Linked DNA regions of Homo sapiens. Each later gene encodes a partner of the first gene's protein in a complex. Each region holds a gene or a part of one and is shown on either strand. Other genes may lie near its edges.

Evidence for each region. The genes of interacting proteins can lie anywhere in the genome.
Region 2: SNRPE (region 1) and PRPF8 share a complex: the UniProt entries of both Homo sapiens proteins name them as parts of the U4/U6-U5 tri-snRNP complex.
Region 3: SNRPE (region 1) and LSM4 share a complex: the UniProt entries of both Homo sapiens proteins name them as parts of the U4/U6-U5 tri-snRNP complex.

The regions. Positions count from the first base shown.
Region 1 is NC_000001.11:203,864,594-203,871,617, forward strand, and holds the end of SNRPE (small nuclear ribonucleoprotein E), read left to right. Parts: intron 1-447; coding exon 448-526; intron 527-5,283; coding exon 5,284-5,339; 3' UTR 5,340-6,559; downstream 6,560-7,024. UniProt on the Homo sapiens protein: Plays a role in pre-mRNA splicing as a core component of the spliceosomal U1, U2, U4 and U5 small nuclear ribonucleoproteins (snRNPs), the building blocks of the spliceosome.
Region 2 is NC_000017.11:1,681,860-1,689,134, forward strand, and holds the start of PRPF8 (pre-mRNA-processing-splicing factor 8), read right to left. Parts: upstream 3,009-7,275; 5' UTR 2,921-3,008; intron 2,724-2,920; 5' UTR 2,713-2,723; coding exon 2,613-2,712; intron 1,843-2,612; coding exon 1,674-1,842; intron 435-1,673; coding exon 270-434; intron 180-269; coding exon 1-179. UniProt on the Homo sapiens protein: Plays a role in pre-mRNA splicing as core component of precatalytic, catalytic and postcatalytic spliceosomal complexes, both of the predominant U2-type spliceosome and the minor U12-type spliceosome.
Region 3 is NC_000019.10:18,306,069-18,313,092, forward strand, and holds the end of LSM4 (U6 snRNA-associated Sm-like protein LSm4), read right to left. Parts: intron 6,635-7,024; coding exon 6,536-6,634; intron 3,794-6,535; coding exon 3,610-3,793; intron 1,488-3,609; coding exon 1,396-1,487; 3' UTR 168-1,395; downstream 1-167. UniProt on the Homo sapiens protein: Plays a role in pre-mRNA splicing as component of the U4/U6-U5 tri-snRNP complex that is involved in spliceosome assembly, and as component of the precatalytic spliceosome (spliceosome B complex).

The DNA.
Region 1 (7,024 bases):
TTGCTGGGCAAGGTGGCTCACGCCTGTAATCCTAGCACTTAGGGAGGCCGAGCATGATGAATCACTTTAGCTCCAGAGTTCGAGACCAGCCTGGGCAACATGATGAAACCCTGTTTCTACCAAAAATACAAAAAGTAGCCAGGCATGGTGGTGCGCCCTGTAGTTCCAGCTACTTGGGGGGAGCTGAGGCAGAAGAATTGCTTGAACCCAGGAGGTCCAGCTGCAGTAAGCCGAGGTTGCACCACTGCACTCTAGCCTGGAAGACAAAGTGAGATCCTTTCTCAAAAAAAAAAAAAAAAAAAAAAAAACTTTGGGTGGAAGGTGGGGTGGGGCTTGAGAAGAGTGAATCTTTGAAGTTAGTTGGAGTTTTTATCTGCATAGGTATACTCATTTAAAATGGTTTGAATGTGATTTTCTTTGAAGATAACAGTTTGTTTATTTTTCTAGGGTTTTGATGAGTATATGAACCTTGTATTAGATGATGCAGAAGAGATTCATTCTAAAACAAAGTCAAGAAAACAACTGGGTAAGGATAGAAGTGGTCTTACAGAATTCTAGAAATATTTTATTCACTTGCAGAATTCAGTGACCTGCAACTCAGTTCATGTTTGAATTTATTTTGCATTTGAGAAGTTATTATTCAGAGTAGTAGTACACTTTTGAAATCATCCTCTACTACTCACTCCTCACCACACTCCATTTTGGCTTCTCCACCCAGAGAGCTCTCACCAAGGGAACCAAAGACTAGTGGTATTAAATCTAATGATCAGTACTAATCCTCATTTTATTAAACTCTCAACAGCATTTGGCACTGTTGGCTGCTCCCTCCTTAAAGCGCTTTGTTCCCGTGTCTGAGTGGCAGGAAAAACCCAAGTAGATTTTTCTGTTTCCTCAGTTGACAATAATTAACACAGAAGACTTCTGTGACCAGATGTATGGGCATATTTCCCCACACACCAAGCAAGCAATCAGTTCGGCAGTGGACATCAGCTCAGAGTCGTCAAGTTCAGTTCAGTTCTAACACTATCTACCTGAGATAGCGTCAGTTCCCAGAGGTTGAGGGCTCAATCCCCAAGATTGCCTTCCATGCCCCTCAGTCCTCCACCAGATGCTAATTGTCAGCTCCAGATTGTTTTACCTGTGCTTCTTACTGACTGGCTATAAACTGGGTCCCATGACCCCTCCGTTGGTTTGATTAATTTGCTAGAGCAGCTCACAGAACTCGGGGAAACACTTGTATTTACTGGTCTGTTATAAAGGATATTACAAAAAGTACAGATGAAGAGATGCGTAGGGCAAGGCATATAGGAAGGGATGCGAAGCTTTTGTGCCCTCTGCAAGCTCACCACTCTGGGAACCTCCACATGTTGAGCTATCAGAACCCCATTGTTTTCAGTTTTTATGTAAGCTTCATTATGTAGGCATGACTGATTAAATTGGCCGTTGGTGATCAGCTTAACCTTCAGCTCCTTTCCTCCTCCCCGGGTGGGAGGGTGGGGCTGAAAGTCCGACATCACTAATGCCTTGGTCCTTTCAGTGAGCAGCTCCCATGCTGAAACGTTGTAGGGGCTGCTGGCCATCAGTCAATCATTAGCATACAAAAAGGCAACATCTTAGAGATTCTAAGGATTTTAGGAGTTGTATGGGATTGAAGACCAAGTAAATATTTTGCAGTATCACACCTTGGCTCTACGATATTATACTTGGGTTTTTATTTTTCACTTCTGGCTATTTTTCAGACTTATATATTCATTCTTGGGACCCAATCACTAAATGAGTTGCTCCAGGCTTGGTTCTAGGCCCTCCTGTCATTCAGTATTGTCTGCCTAGGCACTGGAGTACAGCTTCAGTTACCATCTATAAATACTGACTCCCAAATTTGTTTGTCTGGGCCTATTCACCATTTCTACTTGAATGTTTCAAAGGCTTCTTAAAGTCAGCATATCAGAAAGCAAACTCAATTCCAACTCACACTGTTTAGAGCTATTGTATTATTATTTCCTGCCTTATTGAATGGCACCAGTTTCCAGTTCAGCTTACTAATTGATTTCTCTGCAGCTACCTCCAGTTTGCTTTCCAGGCCTCACTCATCTTTTAAAAACACCAGTCTGAACATATGTCATCCCTTTGCTTGAAATACTGCAATGACTTCCTGTTGCTGTTAGGATAAAAAAAAATCTAATGATTCTGCAAATCTAATGATCTTCATGATCTAGTCTTATCTCCCTCTGCTCATCTCGTATCACTGCCTCACTTTCTGAGCTTTAGCAACACTTGTCTTATTTCAGTTCTTTGAATCTGCAGATTTGCCCAACCATTAATCTTTGTATATGATATTCCTTGTGTCTGTAGAGCTCAGATCAAATATCACTTCTTTTAAGACAGCGGTCCCCTAGGCCAGGTGCAGTGGCTCACACCTGTAATCCCAGCACTTTGGGAGGCCGAGGCGGGTGGATTACGAGGTCAGGAATTCAAGACCATCCTGGCTAACATGGTGAAACCCTGTCTTTCCTGAAAAAAAAAAAAAAAAAAAAAAATTAGCTGGGCATGGTGGCGGGTGCCTGTAGTTCCAGCTACTCGGGAGGCTGAGGCAGGAGAATGGCGCGAACCTGGGAGGCGGAGCTTGCAGTGAGCTGAGATCACGCCACTGCGCTCCAGCCTGGGCGACACAGCGAGACTCTGTCTCAAAAAAAAAAAAAAAAACAGTGGTCCCCAACCATTTTGGCACCAGGGACCGGTTTTGTGGAAGACAATTTTTCTGTGGACTGGGGTGTGGGGGATGGCTTTCGGATGATTCAGGCACATTACATTTATAGTGCACTTTATTATTATTACATTGTAATATATAATGAAATAATTATACAACTCACCATCATGTAGAATCAGTGGGAGCCCTGAGCCTGTTTTCCCACAACTAGACAGTCCCATCTGGGGGTGATGGGAGACAGTGACAGATCATCAGGCATTAGGTTCTCATAAGGAGTGCGCAACCTAGATCCCTCTTTGCCCGGTTCACAATAGGTTTTGCGCTCCTATGAGAATCTAAGGCTTCCACTGATATGACAGGAGGCAGAGCCCAGGCGGGAATACTAGTGATGGGGAGTGGCTGTAAATACAGATGAAGCTCCGCCACCTCGCCCACTGCTCACCTCTTGCTGTGTGACCCAGTTTCTAACAGGGACCAGGACTGGTACTGGTCTGTGGCCCAGGGGTTAGGAAGCCCTGCTCTAAAAAGTTCAAAGTTTAATTTGGTTTTGCTGGGGATGGGGGAAGGCGGGATTATGTGCTCCCTGAGTTTGTAGTAAAACCTTTATTATTGAAATTATTTTATTAGTGTCTCTCCTGTTATCAGATGCTTCACCGTAAGTGTATGAGTCATGCCTTTTTTGATCCCAGTGTGCTCAGTACCTAACTCAATGCCTGGCACATAATAGAAACTAAAAAATATTTGAACAATGAATGGTATTTCTTTCTTTTGTTTTTGGAGACAGAGTCTCTGTCGCTCAGGCTGGAGTGTAATGACGTGATTTTGGCTCACTGCAACCTCTGCCTCCCAGGTTCAAGCAATTCTCCTGCCTTAGACTCCCAAGTAGCTGGGACTACAGGCGTGTACCACCACGCCTGGCTGATTTTTTGTGTTTTAGTAGAGACGGGGTTTCACTGTGTTGCCCAGGCTGGTCTCTAACTTCTGAGCTCAGGCAATCCACCTGCCTCGGCCTCCCAAATGCTGGGATTACATGTGTGAGCCACTAAGCCTGGCAATGAATGGTATTTCTTAACCCAGTTAATGAATGGTCTTAGGATTCACGGTTTCATCAAGACACACTGAATCATTTCTGTTAACATCCCATTCACTTGAGGTTTATTTAGGCATTTTGTCTTTATTTGTTAAATGCTCACTAATACTTTTATCAGTGGTGGGTTTCAGGTGTCTCTCTTTCAGACCCTCAGGATTCTCTTCAACCTGAACTAGATATATGGAAAGTAGATTCTGAGAAGCAGTATGGTGTTTCGCTGGCTGCTTCCTGCTTAGACTATTTTTATGAAAGCCTGGGTTTTTTAGATTTATTGTTATTTATTTATTTATTTTTTTGGAGACGGAGTCTCACTCTGTCTCCCAGGCTTGAGTGCCATGGCACAATCTCAGCTCACTGCAACCTCCACCTCCTGGGTTCAAGCGATTCTCCTGCCTCAGCCTCCCAAGTAACTGGGATTACAGGGCATGCCACCACACCTGGCTAATTTTTTGTATTTTAGTAGAAGACGGGGTGTCACCGTGTTGTCCAGGCTGGTCTCGAATCCTAAGCTCAGGCATTCCACCCACCTTGGCCTCCCAAAGTGCTGGGATTATAGGTGTGAGCCACCATACCCAGCCGGGTTTTTTAGATTTAAAGATGTCTTGCCAGGACGGGCAAGCTTAGCCTTACTGAGGTCATATTATTCATAAATTATTTACCAACTGTTGAATTCCCATGGTAGTATTTATCCTGTAGAATAGAATGTTATTAATACCTGCAGAAGCCTGGGAAAGTAGAACAGTTTAATTACTGTTGGAGTTGATCAACGTGTCTCAAACCGTTCTACCAGTGAACACCAGTGTTCCTGAAGATGTTTATAAATTTCTCAGAAAAGTATTGTCTTAAATAACCTTAGGAAATTTTGGGTAAAACAGGTTTGTTTATTGTAGGATGGAGTCTTTTTTTTTTTTTTTTTTTTTTTTTTTTTTTTTTGGAGATGAATTTTGCTCTTGTTGCCCAGGCTGGAGTGCAATGGTGCCATCTTGGCTCACTGCAACCTCCGCCTCCCGGATTCAAGCAATTCTCCTGCCTCAGCCTCCCAAGTAGCTGGGATTACAGGCACGCGCCACCAGGCTCTGCTAATTTTGTATTTTTAGTAGAGATAGGGTGGAGTCTTTAATATACTAACAGCTTTAAGAATGGAGTTATAATATGCTGTATTTCCCAAACTTGACATACGACTCATTTCCAAACTTTTATTACAAATTCAGCATTGGGAAATGTTGTATGAGGCCTATTGAGTTGACTTAGTCCATAGAAATGATATTTGTCATGAAATGTCATCTACCTATGTTAGTCTCTTGAAAAGATAAATGTATTCTAATGGAGCCAGAAAGCCTTTCACTATATGGACACTTGAAAATGTTCACATATTTTTATAAGAAAGCATTTTCAAAATATTGTTCAAAAACTGGATACAAAATTCTGAGAGTAAAACATCTGAGTGTGTGGCTATTAATAGCTTTTTGTTGTTTTTGTGTTGCAGGTCGGATCATGCTAAAAGGAGATAATATTACTCTGCTACAAAGTGTCTCCAACTAGAAATGATCAATGAAGTGAGAAATTGTTGAGAAGGATACAGTTTGTTTTTAGATGTCCTTTGTCCAATGTGAACATTTATTCATATTGTTTTGATTACCCTCGTGTTACTACAAGATGGCAATAAATACTATGGGATTGTTTGTATTAAAAAATTTACATTGCTTCTTACTATTCAGCAGTAGAAACTTTTTACACAGTAACACCATTCGTTGCTGGTATTTAGTTTTCTGAAGGGTCGCAGTTGCCTTGAGCACTTGGTATTCGCAGAGCTTGGACCTGTAGATTTTGAGGCAGATTAGGAATTCTGCCTGATGGGTAAGCTTCCAGTATTGGGAGGTGGAGAAGGGGAGGGTTCAGAAAAATAAATAAGAGTTATTGCACTAACAAAAGTCTTCATCACTTGTAGTTCTGGATGCTGGAATACCAGAGTTTCTAACCTAAATATGTTGGGTACATTATTTAATGGGGTCAGTATTGCTCAACACTCTCATTGAGTCACTGTGAGGTCTTTGTGAATTTTATCGCTAAGATCAGAATGTGAGAAGTATTTGGATATAGGGAAAGAATGAAGTGCCTTTCAAGTACATTAAAAATCAGTTAAGAGTTTACAGGAAAGAGACTGAGATTGGTAATCTGAAAAGGACCACAAGCATAGCTGGTAGGCAAATTGTTAGGCAGAATAATGGTATGTTGGAGAAATACACCTGTCTCTTATTCTTATCTCTTAAGAATTTTGGTTCTTCCCCCAGTGATTGCTGGTTGAATTCTTATATGGACAGGTTTCCCTTCCCCCAGTATCGCACATGGTTCTAGTTAGAATCCTGTTAGATAGTGAGCATCTGCTGTTAGCTAGACACTGTTGAATCAATACAGTGAAACAGACAGGTAAGCAGGTGGTTTTAATGCCTCATTCTAAGTGCTATTTAAATTGGATCTTGAAAGATGAATAAGGCCTGCCTTAAGTTCTGCTAAAGGCCATGTTGTTATTAAGGACGGGTGAGGAAGGACCAAGAAGTCTGGCTCCTGCTTTTCTACATGCCTGTGAAGGAGACTTTTCATGAAACTGAATAAAAGAAATCCTTTCCGAGATAGAGGAGATTTGTAGGTGAATGCAGAAGTGTATCCAGCTTTGAACCATGCATTCCATCTATATTCCTCCTGTCTGAACTCATGCTCTTTTGATTATGTTTTGAAATAAAGGGCTGCATTAGTTCTTTTAACATTTGAGTTTGAAATTAATTAAACTGATCACAACATGCAAAGAAAACATTGGGCAGCAGAGGGAGTTACAGCCCTGAGACTGCTTCAGCCCTGCTGGTGAGAAGATTGAATTGAAGCTTTTTCAGAGCAGAGCAAAGACCTCCCTGCAGCTTTCTTGGCACCAGAATAGCTGGGAAGAAGGATAAAAGCCCAGAGGAGTATAATCTCTAAGAAAACCTGCTGGCTGCCTTTTCCATTTCCCTGTGTGGCCTTTCTGACCTGGCTGCCCTGTGGAAGCAGAGCTGTGCCTGCTGTGGCTTATTCTGAATGGATCAAGACATGGAAGGTTCTATTTTTGACAGAGCAAATGATGATAGTGAGAATTAAGGTACAGTGAACTCTTACAATTGAGCTCTGTATTTAGAAATCTCTGCTTGCTTTCCTGCTCTACTGGAGCCTGTGGTGTTTGCTTTTTAAGTTGTACT
Region 2 (7,275 bases), on another chromosome or scaffold:
CCAACACAGGGGCGTCCTCCTCAGGGTCCAGCTCTAGCTGAATGGCCTCCAGTGGCTCAACATCTAGGATGTTGTCAGCATAGTCCAAGGGCGGCTCCTCATCATCAAAAGGGGGAAAACGCATCCTCTTGAAATGCCTCCTATCTCTTTTTTCTCGGCGCATCATAATCCACATTGACCTGGAAGGCAAGACATCACACAACCATTTCTACCCACTGCCTCCCAACCACCACCACCACCACCACCCACCATATTTCAGCCTTTCTCACCCCCACTGGGAGATGTAGACAGGTTCAATGACCCAGGGAATCTCATTGACGAAGGAAATGGCTCCAGTGATGTGGTACAGCACAGGCACATCCCGAATCTGCTCCCAAGGCATAGGCATGTTCTCCAGGAGTTTGAGGACTGCGTGGGGCATGTACTTTAGGGCACTGGCACATTAGAAAAAGAGAAGGCTATCAGAAATGACGAGGTGTTCTGCTACCTGTCCCATGCAGAGAAGCCACATGTTCATGTTCCACAGTCCTACCTTACAATCCAAACTCCCAAACTTAGCCCACAGGCCCTTCCTAACCAGAAACCCTGCCTCTCCCTCTCCAACTTCACCTTGCACCACTCTTCTTAAACGTCATAATCCCACAATGCTGGTATCAGCTCCTCTAAATCAACGGCTATCCCTCTGGAGACAGCTTTGCGGCTCTCTCACATCCTATTCCCTCCGCATCTTCCCATAAATCATAATAAAGTATTCACCATACTTCACTATCACCAGTTGTCTCATGTCTGTCAGGCCACTAGACCGCACACTGCAGAAAGGCGGAGATTGTTACCCTCTGCTCGCTACTATATCCCCAGCAGCCAGCACAGTTCTCTAAGTATTTTTTGAAATAAACAAAACTTCCAGTTCATTACATGGCAAACATTTTTGTGTCCAAATAGAACAGGAATCTGCTAAGACATCTGTACCTGTACTAGCCCAGTTTAGAGCCACAGAAAAAACAGGAGTAGGGAAACCTCTGAAATTAAATACCCCAAACACAGAATTCAGGTCCCTGAGGAGCGACAGGCTGCCACTATGCACAGTATCCCACTCTGGACTTCAACCAGCTCAACCATAGGGACATCTTATTTTTCATTTTTTTTTTTTTTTTGAGACGGAGTCTCGTACTTTCGCCCAGGCCAGAGTGCAGTGGTGTGATCTCGGCTCACTACAAGTTCCGCCTCCCAGGTTCACGCCATTCTCCTGCCTCAGCCTCCCAAGTAGCTGGGACTACAGACACCTGCCACCACGCCCAGCTAATTTTGTGTATTTTTAGTAGAGACGGGGTTTCACCGTGTTAGCCAGGATGGTCTCGATCTCCTGACCTCATGATCCACCCGCCTCGGCCTCCCAAAGTGCTGGGATTACAGGCATGAGCCACCGCGCCTGGCCAGGGACATCTTATAATATCATCAACAGGACAAATTAAAGCACCAGTCCCAGATCGGGAAGAGAGGGGAAACAGACTGCAAAAGTGGAAGATGTAGAAATTATCAGAGACTCCTACTGGTTTTCTCCTTTCTCTTATATCCACCAAGATGAGCTGTCAAAGCATCAATCCAAGACTGTGGGACAGGGAGAAGGGAAAAGGGCCAAATTCCAAATGAAATTATTTCAGGATGTTCCTTACCCCAAGTAAACCCTTTTGTCATGGCGGAACTTCCTGTTGGTCATGTCTCCATGGTCTCGAATGATCTTCCTGACATGTTCTGGGGGCATGTCTTCCTTCTGGGCATCCACAAACCCAAACTTCCGCTTTTCTGCATAGCGCTTGGCCTGCAATTGCTGCCATTTTCGAGCTGGAAAGGCACCTCAGTTTAAAGGCCTGCACACCCTCCCCCTAATCCTCTTCACCTCTTGCCCTAGGGTAAGCTCCTGTCAGTGAGTGTGAGGGAGAAGCAGGCACCAGCAGGAAGAAGCACCCCTTGCCAATTCCCTTACCATTTTACTCTGTTTTTCCTTTCATCACATTGATCACTATCTGACTTTTTTTTTTTTTTTTGAGAGGTTGTTTCACTCTGTCTCCCAGGCTGGAGTGCAATGGTGCGATGTCGGCTCACTGCAACCTCCGCCTCCTGGGTTCAAGCCATTCTCCTGCCTCAGCCTCCCCAGTAGCTGGGATTATAGACACGCGCCACCACACACGACTCATTTTTGTATTTTTCGTAGAGACGAGGTTTCACTGTGTTGGCCAGGCTGGTCTCGAACTCCTGACCTCAGGTGATCCGCCCGCCTGGGCCTCCCAAAGTGCTGGGATTACAACCGTGAGCCACCGCGCCCGGCCTGACATTTTTATTACAGAGCTTCAAGGTTTTGTTATTCTCTGTCTCTCCCGCTGTAATTTAAACCCCGTAAGGACAGGAATTTTGTCTCCGTCACTACTGTACCCCCGCTGGATCAGCGCTTGCAAATAATACGCGCTTAAAATGACTTGATGAAAAATTAACTGGAAATAACAAGGGAGCTGACACCTCAGGAGCTGCCCAAACGGGGAGGGTCCCCACCCGCCTGCGCGCGCGCACACCCGCCCCGCCTCCGGCCCGCGCGCCGCTCCACACTCTCGCCTCACCTTTCTCCTGCAGCTTCTCCTCCGACATGTAGTCCGGTAGCGGGGCTAGAGGGCCAGGCACCGGGTTACCCGGCCCTCGATAAGGAAACACTCCGGCCATATCCGGAGAATCTGGGGAGCGGCGGGATAGAAAAATTCACTAACCACAGGCCCGGGCCCACAAGAAGCGCAGCAGAAAGGCGTCCGGGGACCCCGGCCTGCAGTCCCGCCACACAGTGCATCCAGCCCCGCCCGGCCTAACCCCTTCGGTCACTCGGCCCGACCCGACCACGCCTCCCGCAGCCCGGCCTTAAACGCCTGCCACGCACCCCACAGGCCCTCACACAAGAGGCCGCTTTCCCCGCAGCGCAATGGCGGCCAGACTGCGTCCGCTCCGCGTTCCCAGCGCCGGGAAGTGCGCAACCCGAGTTCAGCAGTTGATCCAGTCGGCGCCGAGGTGCTCAGATGGATTAGTGAGACGACCAATTAGAGTTGCACACTGCGCCGAGGAGGCGGGCCCATAGGCGGAAAGGCTTTGAACGCAAGGGGGTGTGGTCGGGGTGAAGCCCCGCCTCCTCCATTTCCGAGGCTGTTTCTGGGGCCTCTGACAGACCTCAGCGTGTGATGGGCTCCCGGCGTCGCACTGTGAGAGAGCGAAGTCTAAAGGGTTTGAATAAATTTGCCAAGATTGCGCATTGTACGATGTCTGTTGTCATCAATGTGTACATGCAATGCAGTACTAGCTCCTGGACAGTCATTTGTTCATGCATTCATTCATTTAACCATCACTGTCTACCGAGGACGAGGGATAAAGCAGGAAAAAAGACAACCAGTAGAGTTCACAGGGGAGCAGAAAGGCAGGCAAGAATTAAGACCTTGGCCGGGCGCGGTGGCTCACGCCTGGAATCGCAGCACTTTGGGAGGCCGAGGCAGGCGGATCACTTAAAGCCAGAAGTTCGAGGCCAGCCTGGCCAACATGGTGAAACCCCGTCTCTACTAAAAATACAAACATTAGCCGGGCGTGGTGGCGGGCGCCTGTAGTCCCAGCTACTCGGGAGGCTGAGGCAGGAGAATCGCTTGACCCGGGAGGGGGAGGTTGCAGTGAGCCAAGATCGCGCCACTGCACTCCAGCCTGGGTGACAGAGCGAGACTCTGTCTCGGGGGAAAAAAAAAAGTCTGAAATTCTGTGGAGGGTGCAGAGGAATTGTAACCCATACAGCCCCTGAATCTAGTTGAGAATTTACAAATCAAAGTGAAATAATTAGAAAAAAATTCAAAGGATGTCAATGTGCTTTCAGAACGGTAAAAATTTAAAAAATATTCCTTTTGTTTTTTTGAGACAGGGTCTCACTCTGTTGCCCAGACTGGAGTGCAATGGCGCGATCTCAATTCATCACAACCTCCACCTCCCAGGATCAAGCAATTCTCCTGCCTCAGTCTCCAGAGTAGCTGGATTACAGGCACGCGCCACTACTGCCGGCTAAGTTTTGGATTTTTAGTAGAGACAGGGTTTCACTATGTTGGCCAGGCTGGTCTCAAACTCCTGACCTTACGAAATCCTCCTGCCTCGGCCCTCCCAAAGTGCTGGGATTACAGGCGTGAGCCCCCATGCCCGGCCTGAAATCTATTTTTTAATGCTGGGTGTTCTAAAGGTCCCTACAGTCAAAAAAGACAGAGGAGAATTGTTAAAGATTTGATGGAGATGGATGGATGTGAGGATTTCATAAAGGTAAATGGAGAGGAAGGAAAAAGGTAATCCCAAGTGGTAGAACTACTAGAAAGAGTTAAGAAAGAAGCCGGGCACCGTGACTCATACCTGTAATCCTAGCACGTTGGGAGGCAGCGGCGAGAGGATTGGTTAAACTCATGAGTTTAAGACTAGCCTGGGCAACATACTGAGACCCTCATCTCTACAAATAATAAAAATATTAACCAGGCATAGTGGTACATGCCTGTAGTCCCAGCTACTCGGGAGGCTGAGGTGGGAGGATCATGATGGCACCACTGCACTCCAGCCTGGGTGACAGAGCGAGGCTGGTTTCATAGAAAAAAAGTGGGGGTTTTGGTTTGTTTTTTGTTTTTTGAGGCAGAGTCTCACTCTGTTGCCAGGCTGGAGTGCAGTGTCACAATCTCGGCTCACTGCAACCTCTGCCTCCAGGATTCAAGCGATTCTCCTGCCTCAGCCTCCTGAGTAGCTGGGGTTACAGGCATGTGCCACCACACCCGGCTAATTTTGTATTTTTCGTAGAGATGGCGTTTCTCCATGTTTGTCAGGCTGGTCTCGAACTACTGAGCTCAAGTAATCTGCCTACCTCAGCCTCGCAAATTGCTGGGATTTCAGGCGTGAGCCACCGTGCCAGGCCAAAAAAGGTTTAGATATAGAAACTAACATGGCATGCTCTGAAAATAGGCACCATATCAATCTGGCTGTGCTAGAAAGTCCAACATCATCATTATCATCTTCATCATCATCATCGTCATGGTAGTGAAGTCCTTTCACCTGTGTAAGGTTCACTACGTGCCAGACATTGCTCTAAGCCCTGGTGAAATCCTACTATGGTCTGTAGTTTCATTAAGAGTATTGTGGCCGGGCGCGGTGGTTCACGCCTGTAATCCCAGCACTTTGGGAGGCCGAGGCTGGCGGATCACAAGGTCAGGAGATCGAGACCATCCTGGCTAACACGGTGAAACCCTGTCTCTACTAAAAATACAAAAAAATTAGCCGGGCATGGTGGCACGCACCTGTGCTTCGAGCTACTTGAGAGGCTAAGGAAGGAGAATCGCTTGAACCCAGGAGGTAGAGGTTGTAGTGAGCTGAGATAGTCACTGCACTCCAGCCTGGGCAAAAGAGCAAGACTCCGTCTCAAAAAAGAAAAAAAGAGTATTGTACCAATGTCAATTTCCTGGTTTGATTGTCGCTCTATGGTTGTATAAGAAGTTCTGGGGGGTGGCCGGGCGCGGTGGTTCACGCCTGTAATCCCAGCACTTTGGGAGGCTGAGGAGGGTGGATCACGAGGTCAGGAGATCGAGACCATCCTGGCTAACACGGTGAAACCCCATCTCTACTAAAAATACAAAAAAATTAGCCGGGCATGGTGGCAGGCGCCTGTAGTCCCAGCTACTCGGGAGGCTGAGGCAGGAGAATGGTGTGAACCCGGTAGGCAGAGGTTGCAGTAAGCCAAGATCGGGCCACTGCACTCCAGCCTGGGTGACAGAGCAAGACTCCGTCTCCAAAAAAAAAAAAAAAAACAAGTTCTGGGGGGTGGGCAGGGGGCAGGTGTGGTGGCTCACGCCTGTAATCCCAGCACTTTGGGAGGCTGAGGCAGGTGGATCATTTGAGGTCAGGAATTCGAGACCAGCCTAGCCAACATGGTGAAAACCTGTCTCTACTAAAATACAAAAATTAGTGGGGCATGGTGGCACATGCCTGTAATCCTAGTTACTTGGGAGGCTGAGGCATAAGAATCGCTTGCACCCGGAGGTGGAGGTTGTAGTGAGCTGAGATCATGCTATTGCACTCCAGCTTGGGTGACCGAGTGAGACTCTCGCTCAAAAATAAAATAAAATAAAAAGTTCTCAAGCTACGTGAAGGGTACACAAGAACTCTCTGTACTATTTTCAAAACAGCATTATTGAGATAAAAGTTGCACTCCATGGCCACCATGCTGGCTCATGCCTGTAATCCCAGCACATTGGGAAGTCGAGGCGGGCGGATCACCTGAGGTCAGGAGTTCGAGACCAGACGAAGCAACATGGTGAAACTCTGTCTCTACTAAAAATACAAAAATTGGCGGGGCATGGTGGTGCATGCCTGTAATCCCAGCTACTTGGGAGGCTGAGATGTAAGAATCGCTTGCATCTGGAGGCAGAGGTTGCAGTGAGCTGAGATCGCGCCATTGCACTCCAGCCTGGGCAACAAGAGCGAAACTCTGCCTCAAAAAAAAAAAAAAAAAAATCGCAATCCATAAAGTTCGCTTGTTTTCATGTGTATAATTCAATGATTGTTAATGAATTTTAGTTTTAATGATTCAAAATTAGTATATTTACAGACTTGTGCAGTTACCACTATTGAGTTCCAGAACATTCCCAGCACCCCCCAAAGAAATCTTTTTTATTTATTTATTTATTTATTTATTTATTTTTTATTGATAATTCTTGGGTGTTTCTCACAGAGGGGGACTTGGCAGGGTCATAGGACAACAGTGGAGGGAAGGTCAGCAGATAAACAAGTGAACAAAGGTCTCTGGTTTTCCTAGGCAGAGGACCCTGCGGCCTTCCGCAGCGTCTGTGTCCCTGGGTACCTGAGATTAGGGAGTGGTGATGACTCTTAACGAGCATGCTGCCTTCAAGCATCTGTTTAACAAAGCACATCTTGCACCGCCCTTAATCCATTCAACCCTGAGTGGACACAGCACACGTTTCAGAGAGCACAGGGTTGGAGGTAAGGTCACAGATCAACAGGATCCCAAGGCAGAAGAATTTTTCTTAGTACAGAACAAAATGAAAAGTCTCCCATGTCTACCTCCTTCTACACAGACAGGGCAACCATCCGATTTCTCAATCTTTTCCCCACCTTTCCTGCCTTTCTATTCCACAAAGCCGCCATTGTCATCCTGGCCCGTTCTCAATGAGCTGTTGGGCACACCTCCCAGACGGGGTGGTGGCCGGGCAGAGGGGCTCCTCA
Region 3 (7,024 bases), on another chromosome or scaffold:
CATCTCTAACCATCAATCAAGTGCCGCTGTGGCGGAGAGGATTCAGGCGACTGCAGATATCCATCCCTGTCCCCCACCCCACACACAAGGAGAACATCCCAGGCGAGGACATTGTAAATGCAAAATCTATACGATGGCAAGTAACTCTGAAGACTCAAGAAAAAGAGTTCCTCACGGACGGGACCTTTTATTCCAATCACCTCTCAAAATAGGTCTCCGAACGAGGACCCTGAAGAGAAGGCTATGCAGGGGGACGGGCCGCTGCCTGGCTCAGGGCTTCCCTCTGGTTTCTTCACGGTCCACAGATGCTACCCGGAGCCTTTCTCGAAAGCGCTGACTCAGTGTCTCAGGTGCGCGCCCGAGGAGTGGCAAACCCGGCCTGGCTCAGAAAGGGGGCAGGAGCCTCGTGAGAATCTTCCATGAGCATCTTCCGAGGGGATTCCTGTCCTGTCTTCTCTGTGTGAACGCCAGTGTGGACAGATGAGGATAGATGATGGAGTCCAGGCCACCCAGGAGGGGGTGATGGGGACCATGCGTGGCCCCTGCCTGGGACTTCCCTCCCCACACACCCCTTGGCATTAACGTCTCCACAGAGGGGAGAGGGTTATAGGACAACCTGGTGTGGGGGGCGCCGGGGACTCTCAAGAGCCCCCACTGTCCAGATGCTGGTCTTGCCTTTTGTAAAAGGACATCAGTGCCTCACTGTGCCGCTGACACCTGGTGAGAACTCTCAAAAGGAAGCTTCCCTTACGGGAACGGGGATTTCCTGAGAGTCCAGCGATGGACAGAGGGCAGGAGACCCGCTAGGTGCACCCAGAAGCTCAAAAGGAACAGTGGATGTGCAGTGTGTAGTTTTATTTGTTTTTATTTCCATAACACAAGAGAGGAAGCGAAGGGCCAGGGCCCGAGGCATCCCCTGCACGGTTCGAAGGCTTTCAACCGTCCCGGGTTTGTTTTGAAGGCAATTTTGGGGCCGCGCCCAAGGAAACCCTGCAGGCTGTCAGTCCCAGCATGAACAGCTTAAAATAAAAATCTCCCGTCTGGTTGCTGCTCGGAGAGGCTCCAAGAAATGCAAAACAAACCCGCCTGGAAAATGCTGCCCTGAGAACCAGAGCGAGGGCTTGAAAGATGCCTTCAACACAGACTCTTCTAGGAATCCAGCCAGTTTTGGGACGGCCGTTTCACAAAACCAAAAAACACCAAGTAACATTTCTAACCGGAGAATTGCCGGTTTTAGCAAGAAAAAGGGGCTTCACCTAAAAGGGAGGGTCACAAAACACGAAGGGGGTTCCCCCTGGCGCCTGCCTCTTCCTTTCTGAGCAGATCCGTCCGAGACTGTGGAGCGGAATCGCCACCCTGGCAGGAGGGGGCGCAGCAGCCGGTCTGGGTGGGCGCTCACTGTTTGCCCGCCTGTCTGCCAGGCTTCTTCTCTGGCTGGCCTCTGCCTGTGCCCGGGATCCCACCTCGGCCCCGGCCACCAAACACACCTAGAGGACAGAGAGAGGGCGCTGCAGCAGAGCCAGGTGGGTGGGACCTTCGACAGGATCCCGGCGCCCTGAAACTCTAGGCCAGGTCACCTAAGTCTCCAGCCTCAGCTTCCTCATGTGTGAGGTGGTGACTGAGGGTGCTTGGATCTCCTCCGTGGGGCAGAGCATCTGAGGAAGGCAGGAACTCCAGGGCATCCTCATTATGGGACTAGACCCAGCCCCCAGGGATGCGGGGGGGGGGGACTAGGCGACAGAGGACACTAAGTCACATTGGGGGTTGGGGCAGGCTTCCTAAAGGACAAAGCCAGAAGGGTTTCCTGGAGGAGGAGGAGGAGGTAGGAGAGGCGTGGAGCAGAGACCAGGGCAGTAGGCCAGGCTGGGGGCTCCCTGGCGGGGGGGGGGCCTCCTATGCGCCACAACCACCCACAGCCCCTCATCTACCTGCCAGGAGGAAAACAGAAAGAGGGATTTCTGTGTATCCAGCCCCAGGGATGGGGAAGGGGAGGGGACTCCCCAGCAGGCCTGAGGCCAGAGATAGACCATGAGGACAAATGACATTTTCCATGAAGCCCCTGAGGTGGGAGCATGTGGCCACTGGGGAGGTGACAGGGGGTTCCCGGGAGATGAGGGCCCCAGGGACTGAGTGGACGCTACAGCGGCACCTCCAGTAATCCTGAGCAGGCTGCACGCAGGGCACGCCTGTCCCCACACCCTCTGTGTGCCTGGCGCCCCTTCACGCCACCCTCACCACAGGCCAGGCCTGGACGCAGCAGGTTGGTCAGGCCGGGACCCAACATTGATCCCTCCCTCTCTGTCTCCCTTGGGGACCCCAGCTCTGTAAGCCCCGTTTAGGGAGCCGTTTCAGAGAACTTTCTAGCTGGACGAACGCTTGAGGAAATCAAAGCTGGAGCTTCAAACAGCAGGAGAGCCAAGGCCAGCAAGAGGAGCTGGCCCTGTGGCCCATGTGCTGGGTGCCAGGGGCCAGAGGCCAGCGCTGCAGGCAGCATAGCTCAGGCCCTCCACAGAGCCCGCTGGGAGGCTCAGTCGTGGGCCAGGGAGGTCTGGGGACAGGAGGACTGACCCCAACAGGAACTGGAATCACGGTCTACTCTGCAGACCTCAACCCCGTGAAGGTGGGGTCAGGGGTCCAGATTCAGAGGATCTAAGAGGTCAGGGCTCTCACCAGCCAGGGGCCACCAGGCCCTGTGGGGACAGAGGCCAGAGGCCAACGCTGGCCTGGGCCACCAACCTCCCCTCTCACCAGGCAGGACCAGCTGTGCTAGGGTGCACAGCCTGGTGGGGGTTACTGCGAGGCTGCTATCTGCACTCCATGGCCCAGTGGCTTCCTGCAGAGCAGCCAGAGAAAACCCCCCACTTCCCTAGGTAGGACCCGACCCACTCTCTCAACAACCTTGACCCCAACTACTGGGAAGGAGCCAGGCCGGGGACCCCAGAGGCCCCACCCACCCTGAGATCCCCAAAGCTCCCTGCCTGGAGTACTATCCCTGCCCCTCCCTCGGGCTCACTCCTGACCACCTCGTGAGCCTGCACAGAATTGGCGCCTGGGGCCTTCCGGGGGCAGCCATGCCGTGCTGCAAGCCCCCAGGCTGGCACCTGAGCCCAGCACACAGGCAGTGCCCATGGATGGCAGAAGCAAAGCCCAGGTCCCCCCGAGAACACAGAGCTGGGGACAGAGAGGTGAGGAAGGGCAGGGGCTACAGATGGCCCCTGGGCCTAACAAATGGAATTTTATGCCAATTCATCATCTCCGGTGGGGGCGGGCGACCTTGGCTCTGGATAGAGCCACGCCAGGTTCCAAGTGGAGTTGCCAGCGGCCTGGACAGATGGGCACCACCATACCCTCTCAGAGGGGAAACTGAGGCTTGGGGAGGTGACTTGATGTGCCCTGAGGACCGCCAGGAGGCGCAGTGAGAGGAGGGCTGAGTCCCAGGTCTCGGGGCTCCTCTGCCTGGGCCTCGGCTCATGGCCAAGGACCAGGAGGGGGGCCCGGGAGGGTTGGGAGGCTCCGAGGCAGCGCTGCAAGGGCAACCCCAAGAAGGAGGGATGCCACGTGTGGCTGTCTTCCCGCCCCAGGTACGTCCACTGGAGAGGGGAGACCCACCTCGGCCAGCGCCGCCCATGCCGCGGCCTTTCTGCTGCTTCTGCTGCTGCAGGCCTCCGCGGCCGCGGCCCTTGGCCACCACCTCCTCCTTGACCATGTCGATGATCTCGTCGGGGATGCGCAGGTACTTGATGGTGCTGCCGCGGATGTAGCACTCGGGCATCCGCCAGAACTTGTCCCCGTCCTGCGGAGAAGGGGAGCAGGTTATTAACTTACCACCGGGCCGTCTGGCCCAGCCCTGGGAGCGCGGGAGGCCCTGCAGATCCTGCCCAGCCTGCACCCCGTACCACCCCTGCAAGCTGCACAGTATCAGTCCCGGGACATACGTGGCAAAGGGTCCACCCTGCAGGCAGGATCTGTCCTGACCCCAGGCAATCCTTCACCCAGGAGCAAGGGTGGGTGTGGTAGGCGCAGCCCCCATTGTGCACTCACAAGGAAGACTGGCTCCTATCCTCTGCCCGTGGGCCTGGCTCAGGAGTGGCTGACTGGGGCTCCCTCCAGCCTGGGATGGGGCTCTCTCTGGTTGGGGTTCTTCACCTGCAGCCCAAAGCCCAGAGCGGGTGGGGGCCTCCCTGTGCACCAGACACAGCCGAAGCCCAGCTACTCCTCCTCCTGCCCCAGCCCCACCTCACTTCTGGAAGCCTCTCTACATGCCCTGACTCATTCATTCATCTAAGTATCTCCTGACAGGGCCTGCGCTGGGTGCAGGGACATGCGAGCAAGCTACAGGCCTAGTGTGGTGGGTGAAGAGGGGCGGGAAATGGGGGGACTTGGGTCCTGCCAGGGTGGCTCAAGGGCGGCTCCCAGCGATGCCAGTTTTAGGAGAGCTAACCAAGACTGGAGAAATGGGGGCCTTGCAAAGACACAGACTCATGCTGCAATGCCTCCGAGGCCCCCACTGGGACAGATCGAGGGATTAGCAGGGGCCAGGGCCATTCCTACCATATCAGTTTCCCAGCCCCGCCCCACCGCCCAGGTTCCTGGACAGACCCACGCACGACGCCTGGATGGCCTTTGCCCCCGATGCCCTTTAAAGTCAGATCACAGTATGTTCCAGCTTGGAACCCACCCAGGGCCCCCTCCAGCCTGGGGGCAAGGTCTAAGAACCTCAGCAGGGCTCTCTAGGGCCCGAGATCCTGCCCCGCCCTGGCGGTCCTCTCCCAGCCCGACGACACTCCCTCCAGATGGAACTTTCTGTTTCCGGAACACACGCCATGGGCTTGCCCCCAGAACTTTGCACGTGGTTTTCCCACTTCTCATCTGGCTAACTTTGACCCCAAAAGGCCTTACCTGCCCGAATCCCCAAGTCCTCCTGTCAGACACTCTCCTCCACACCTGGGTAGGTGTGGCCTGGCCTAGCGCTGGGCGGGGAGGAACAGCCCCTTTGGGTGCTCACTCTCCCAGGAACCCCTCGAGGGCTCGTGGGGCGGACACACCATGGTTCTGTGGGGACTCAGGGCCTGGGCAGGTGACTTGGCGCCCAGCTCTCCCAGGCAGGGCCCAGAGGCTTCCTCGTGCAGGAACCTGGGCAGGGCCTGAGCTCACTGCAGGGAGGCCCCTGCCTCCTGCCCACAGCGCTCCAGAGGTCTCTCAGCCCGGGGTCTCTGCATCCTGCGGCCTGCCTCTGAGGGAGGGAGGGCCCCACTTAGATGGGGACGATGTGAGTTCCCATCGCCTCTCCTCCCAGCCACATGTGACGGCAGCATCACCGCCTGGCCACAGAGGCAGGCTGCTCAGGGAAAGCCATCCGTCCACTCGAAGCTGGAGGCAGAGGCCAAACCAACCCCTGGAGACCACGCAGCCTCTGAATCAACAGGCTTCTCATGTCTAGGACCTGGAGGTGTCCACAAGACCGCACATGCTCACGCACGCAACACGCCTGGTGATTCCAATACCGGAAGTGGACAGAGCCCCGCTGGCCGCAGATGGGAGGCACGCGGTTCTGCACCAAGGCACCATCCGACACAGCCAGACTGGACCCACCCAGACGCCCTCCGACAGGCTATGGCACGAAACCCAGCAAGCAGTTTCTAGAGCTTCTAGCGCTGCTGCACAGCAGCCTCACCACCTGTCCCCACCCCGCCCAGCCCTGTGCTGATGAGAGGCCCAGTCCCGGGTGGGGGTGGCGGTCAGGGCAAGATACGGCCACTTCAGGAAGAAGCGCCTCCCCCCTCGAGCCCTGTTGTCCTGTCAAGGTGACCCCAGGCAGGCACTCCAAGCTCCCCAGCAGTTTCCTCCCTATACCATGGGGGGCTGTCACCCACAGGGAGACAAGACAGATGGGGTCAGGGAAGGTTGGTGGGAGGAGTCCAAGGGAGCCGCTGCCTTCAGCACCATCCCTGGCCTCCTCCTCAGTGCTCTGTGGGTCATCCCAGGGGCAGGGAAGGCCCGTGACACCAGGGGAACCATCTTCCAGCCCCGGCCGACCCAGCAGCACTCCTAGCCAGGCACTTCCGGTCTTGGGCTCTGGCTGGTGGCTCCTGACCCACCGGGCCCTGGCGCTGCTCCTGCCCACCGTGACCTGGGCATCCCGGACATCCCAGGGCCACACTACCATGGCCCGCAGAGTGCAGGCAACATCCAGGCTGGACTAAAGGCAGCAGAGTCCGGGAGTCTTGGGCCTCCCCTGGAGGGGGCTGCCCCAGCCTGAGCCACAGGGAGTCCCCAGTCCTAGGTCCTTCCAGGTCAGGGGTGGCACCAACAGACACACAGCAGGAAAGTCTCCCACAGGGTCAAAGTCCAGGGCACACTGGGAGACTTGGTGGCCTAGCTCACCCTGCCCTGTCCCTCCTGACTGACCCCTGGAAGGACGAGCAGTCCTAGGCGGCCTCCCCCACTGACTCCTCCCATGAGGCCCAGGGAGGGAGGGAGGAGGCTGAGTGTGCACCCCCTGCATCCCACCCCCGTTGGTGGGTGCAGCACCCACCCTGGACGTGCAGATGACTTCTCGCAGGTTAATGTTCATCCAGTTGTCGCAGCTCACCAGGTGTCCATTGTACGTCTCCCCATTTTTCAGCTCCACCAACTAGAAGAGAGACAGGCTAGAGGTTGGCTGTAGCCCTGGAGCCCTGCGCCATGGGCCCCTCAGGAGGTGTAGCTCTGCCCTGAGATGGACCACCACCTCCGGGCCTCAGCCCACAGTTCCCAGACCCCTAAATGGCCTTCCTTACAGGCGACAGGCTCTGCCTCCGCTAGACACTTCGCTGGCAGTTAGACAGTCTATCATGACGCCAACCTTTGTGCAATTAAAAAATGATACTGGGCCGGGCGCGGTGGCTCACGCCTGTAATCCCAGCACTTTGGGAGGCCGAGGCAGGCAGATCACGAGGTCAAAAGATTGAGACCATCCTGACCAACATGGTGAAACCCCATCTCTACTAAAATCATAAAAATTAGCTGGGCATGGTGGTGCATG